Regions from separate parts of the Homo sapiens genome. Here region 2 is linked to region 1. The links come from fine-mapping of genetic effects on gene expression. Tissue or cell type: Th2 cells. Region 1 holds a variant in brackets; the other region holds the start of a gene. All regions are shown on one strand. Distances are from middle to middle.

Region 1 (2,761 bases):
ACAAAAAAATTAGCCGGGCGTGGTGGCGGGTGCCTGTAGTCCCAGCTACTTGGGAGGCTGAGGCAGGAGAATGGCGTGAACCCGGGAGGCGGAGCTTGCAGTGAGCCGAGATTGCGCCACTGCACTCCAGCCTGGGTGACAGAGCAAGATTCCTCAAAAAAACAAAAGAAGTCTTAAAAAAGTCTCAAAAAAAAAAAACAAGTCTTAAAACATTCAAAAATTGGTATATACATGAGTGGAAAAAAGTTAATAGATACAGAATAGAGCACAAGCAGGATCTTAAAAAATGGTTTAAAAAGCCAGGCACAGTGGCTCATGCCTGTAATCCCAGCACTTTGGGAGGCTGAGGCGGGTAGATCAACTGAGGTCAGGAGTTTGAGACCAGCCTGACCAACATGGTGAAACTCCCATCTCTACTAAAAACACAAAAATTAGGCTGGGCGCGGTGGCTCACGCCTGTAATCCCAGCACTTTGGGAGGCCGAGGTGGGCAGATCACAAGGTCAGGAGATCAAGACCATCCTGGCCAACATGGTGAAACCCCATCTCTACTAAAAATACAAAAATTAGCTGGGTGTGCTGGCACATGCCTGTAATCCCAGCTGCTCAGGAGGCTGAGGCAGGAGAATCGTTTGAACCAGGGAGTCGGAGGTTGCAGTGAGCCAAGATCGTGCCACTGTACTCCAGCCTGGTGACAGAGCGAGACCCGACCTGAAAAAAAAAAAAAAATTAGCTGGACGTGATGGTGGGCGCCTATAATCCCAGCTACTTCAGAGGCTGAGGCAGAAGAATCACTAGAACCTGGGAGGCGGAGGTTGCAGTGAGCCAATATCGCACCATTGCACTCCAGCCTGCAGGACAGAGCGAGACTCCATCTCAAAAAAAAAAAAAAAAAAAAGAAAAAGGTAAAAAGAAAACAAAAAAGTGAAAAAAAGCGAGAAAAAAAAATGGAAAAAATTGAAATGATATCATGTATTTTCTGTGATCACAATGGAATAAAACTAGAAATCAAAACAAGAGAAATTGGCTGGGTGTGGTGGCTCACATCTGTAATCCCAGCACTTTGGGAGGCCGAGGCGGGCAGAGCATTTGAGATCAGGAGTTTGAGACCAGCCTGGCCAAGATGGTGAAACCCCATTTCTACTAAAAATACAAAAATTAGCTGTGCATGGTGGTGGGCGTCCATAATCCCAGCTACTCGGGAGGCCAAGGCAGACTGCTTGAACCCAAGAGGCGGAGGTCACAGTGAGCCAAGATTGTGCCACTGCACTCCAGCCTGGACAACAGAGCGAGACTCTGTCTCAAAAAAAGAAAGAAAAAGGTCAGGC[G/A]CAGCAGCTCATGCCTGTAATCCCAGCACTTTAGGAAGCCAAGGTGGGCGGATTACTTGAGGTCAGGAGTTTGAGACCAGCCTGGCCAACATGGTGAAACCCCATCTCAACTTATAAAATACAAAAATTAGCTTGGCATAATGGAGTGCGCCTGTAATCCCAACTACTCCAGAGGCTGAGGCAGGAAGGCAGGAGAATCACTTGAACCCAGGAGGTAGAGGTTGCAGTGAGCTGAGATCGTGGCATTGCACTCCAGCCTAGGCAATAGAGTGATTGAGACTCCAGCTCAAAAAAAAAAAAACCAAGAAGAAGAAGAAGAGAAACTTCAAATTATGATACATCTTAAAGAATTAGGTGCAGTGGGCCGGGCGCGGTGGCTCACGCCTGTAATCCCAGCACTTTGGGAGGCCGAGGCGGGCGGATCACGAGGTCAGGAGATCGAGACCATCCCGGCTAAAACAGTGAAACCCCGTCTCCACTAAAAATACAAAAAAATTAGCTGGGCGTGGTGGCGGGCGCCTGTAGTGCCATCTACTCAGGAGGCTGAGGCAGGAGAATGGCGTGAACCCAAGAGGCAGAGCTTGCAGTGAGCCGAGATTGAGCCACTGCACTCCAGCCTGGGCGACAGAGCGAGACTCTGTCTCAGAGAAAAAAAAAGAAAAAAAGAATTAGGCGCAGTGGTTCATGCCTGTAATCCCAGCACTTTGCGAGGCCGACACGGGCAGATCACTTGAGGCCAGTAGTTTGAGACCAGCCTGGCCAACTTGGTGAAACCCCATCTCTACAAAAACTACAAATATGAGCCCGGCGTGGTGGCACATGCCTTTTGTCTCAGCTCCTTGGGAGGCTGAGGTGAGAGGATCACTTGAGCCCAGGAAGGGGAGGTTGCAGTGAGCCAAGATGGTGCTACTGCACTCCAGCCTGGGTGATAGACTGTCAAACAAACAAACAAACAAACAAACAAAGATTAGAAAAGCAAGACCAAACCAAACCCAAAATTAGTAGAAGGAAAAAAATAATAAAGATCAGAGCAGAAAGAAATGAAATTGAAATGAAGAAAACAATACCAAAGATCAATGAAACAAAAAGTTGTTTGGGAAAGTTAAAAAAAATTGACAAACCTTTAGCCAGACTAAGAAAAAAGAAGGAAAATCCAAATAAATAAAATCAGAGATGAAAAAGGAGAAATTAGAATTAATAGTGCAGAAATTCAAAGGATGATTAGGGGCTACCGTGAGCAGCTACATGCCAGTAAATTGGAAAACCTAGAAGAAATGGATAAATTTCTAGACACATCCAACCTACCAAGACTGAACCATGAAGAAATACAAAATCTGAACAGACCAATAACAAGTAATGAGATCAAAGCCATAATAAAAGAGTCTCCTAACAAAGAAAAGCCCAGGACCCAATGGCTTTATTTATGAATTTTAC
Region 2 (2,500 bases), 48 kb after region 1:
CAGTGAGCTGAGATCGCGCCACTGCACTCCAGCCTGGGTGACAGCGCGAGACTCCGTCAAAAAAAAAAAAAAAAAAAATCCTCTAATGGCATCCCCTAGGTAATAAAAACCCGGCTATAGAAGATATCCTACCCGATTCAAGCCTCCCAATCTCCTACTTGCCCGGCTTGCTCTTCTTCAAGAGCCTCCTTGCAAGTCCCCCAATAACCCAGATACCTTCCCTTAGGGTCCAGGCATTGGGTGTCCCTTTTGCCTGGAATTCTTATACTCAGACATCTCTACGGCTAATTTCCTCACCTCCAAATTTCTGCTTAAATGTCAAGTTTAACTGACCTGACAATCCTACACAGAACTGCTTTAGCCCTTCAGCCCTAGGACATTCCTATTTCCTTCTCCCACAGCACTTATCACTAATATACTATGAAATTCGCTTTTTTTTTTTTTCACCACAGCACTTATACTAATATACTATGAACTTTTTTTTTTCCACCACAGCACTTATCACTAATATACTATGAACTTCTCTTTTTTTTTCATTTTGAGACGGAGTCTCGCTATGTCGCCAGGCTGGAGTGCAGTGCGGCAGGATCTCGGCTCACTGCAACCTCCGCCTCCGCCTCCCGGGTTCAAGTGATTGTCGTGTCTCAGCCTCCCGAGTAGGTGGGACTACAGGCGCGCGCTACCATGCACGACTAATTTTTGTATTTTTAGTAGAGACGGGGTTTCGCCGTGTTGGCCAGGCTGGTCTCGAACTCCTGACTTCAGGTGATCCGCCCGCCTCGGCCTCCCGAAGTGCTGGGAGGCCGCCGTGCAGGGTCCTTCTTTTACTCTGACGTTGCAACAACAGCCTCGCCGCCCACTGTTCACTCGCAGTATCCCAAGAACTAAACCAGTAGCAACACAGAACTCAGCAAGCATTCGAATAAGTGAATGAAAGAATTAATGACGTTACTCCATACTTGGGCTTCACCACTTCGTCTAGCACAGCCGTTGTTAAAACAGGAAAAATGCAATCGCAGATGCCAGCAGAGGTCTGTTGGTTCAAAATTATAGTTTCTTTGGGCCAGCGGAAGTTGGGCGCGGGACCCAAGAGAGAGAACGCCCCTTACCGCCTCACCTCCTTCCTCCCCTCATCTTCCTATCTCAAACCAAAACGACAATGCAATTTATCCCCAACCGGAAATTTGACAGTGAAAGGGAGCTCTACTAATAATTGCACTGGGACAAGAAGTGTAAGGCGAAACTACCTGGGCAACCTCAAGCAATGCTTTACACTCGGCTGCCAAACGGAAAGGACCACTTCCGCCCAGCTCTCCCGCTACGGGGAGCCAAGTGCCACAGCATCCGGAGCGCCGACGCGGGACCGGAAGTGACGCAGAGAAGTTTCCGGGACTGGTGAGTAGTGGGCGATTTAAAAACCCGCGAGTGTAGTTGTGACCTTCGCGGTAGGTGCCGGTTGGGGCCGGCTGTGATTGTTATCTTGGTGCTGCAGAGGACAGCAGAAGAGGAGATTGGGTCAGAAAACTGCCCTGCCGCACCAGAGCACAGCGCACTAGTGGGACAGGGGTCCTGACTCAGACTTAACTGGCTGTGTCTCGTGGTTTTTCACTGTCCTGGAAAAGGCCTGAAGTGGCACTGAAATGAGGCATAGATGAGGTAACGTCGAGGGAGCGGTTTGCAGGTTGCAAAGGGGCCCTACTGATGCTGCTTAATAGTAAACAGTGCTTACTCTAGGACGGGAGTTGTTTCCAGCTTTACGTGTAAATCTCGCGATATTGTGGCCTGGGCACTATTTCCATTAAGGAGGAAACTGCACAGGATAAGTCATTTACCTGCTGTTGCACAGCTCTGGCTCTAGGATTCAGGCTGGCTTCAGAGTCGGTGCTCTTAACCGCCATACTATGTTGCCTTCTGTTGTCGTTGTTGACTGTGGCCATGTAGCTTCGCAGTTTCCTCATCTGTAACAGTAAATAACTCAAAACCTGCATGATGGCCCACTAGGGTTTCACTTTCGAGCTTGCCAGATGTAGAAAATGCTGGAGAATGGAGTACTATGAGGACCATTAGAAGATCTTTCAAGGCCGGACGCAGTGGCTCACCCCTGTAATCCCGGTACTCTTGGAGGCCGAGGCAGGTGGATCACTTGAGCGCAGGAGTTTGAGACCAGCCTGGGCAACATGGCGAATCCCCATCTCTACTAAAAATACAAAAATTAGCCAGGTGTGGTGTTTAGCGCCTGTAGTCCCAGCTGCTCAGGAGGCTGAGGTGGGAGGATCTGCTTGAGCTCAGGAAGTCGAGGCTGCAGTGAGCTGAGATCACGCCACTGCACTCCAGCCTAGGCGCCTAGTGAAACCCTGTGTCAAAAAGAAAAAAACAAAAACAAACTTCCAAGACCTCGAGTGGTTTTTGGAGACCCTGTATCACTTCAAATAATGTGTTAAACAAGCATCTTCATCTCATTAAATAGAAATGTTGAAAAATTGCTTTTGGAATAATTGAC

The links. PIP is the estimated chance that this variant, and not a neighbour inherited with it, causes the effect.
Region 2: PPIL3 starts here. The variant in region 1 is fine-mapped to the expression of PPIL3 in Th2 cells (Schmiedel 2018, PIP 0.90).

Annotation. Positions count from the first base shown.
Region 1 is chr2:200,840,335-200,843,095 of GRCh38, forward strand. No RefSeq gene overlaps it. Among named protein-coding and RNA genes, the nearest start is that of CLK1, 23 kb to the right of the region's middle. The variant G/A (reference allele first, on the strand shown) is at 1,328.
Region 2 is chr2:200,887,997-200,890,496 of GRCh38, forward strand. PPIL3 (peptidylprolyl isomerase like 3) reads right to left here and starts at 1,081. Exons shown (of 7, transcript NM_130906.3): 1 at 960-1,081. NIF3L1 (NGG1 interacting factor 3 like 1) reads left to right here and starts at 1,375. Exons shown (of 7, transcript NM_001369441.2): 1 at 1,375-1,656. RefSeq lists enhancers at 161-905, 599-648, 717-1,916, 769-1,018, 906-1,650 and 1 more.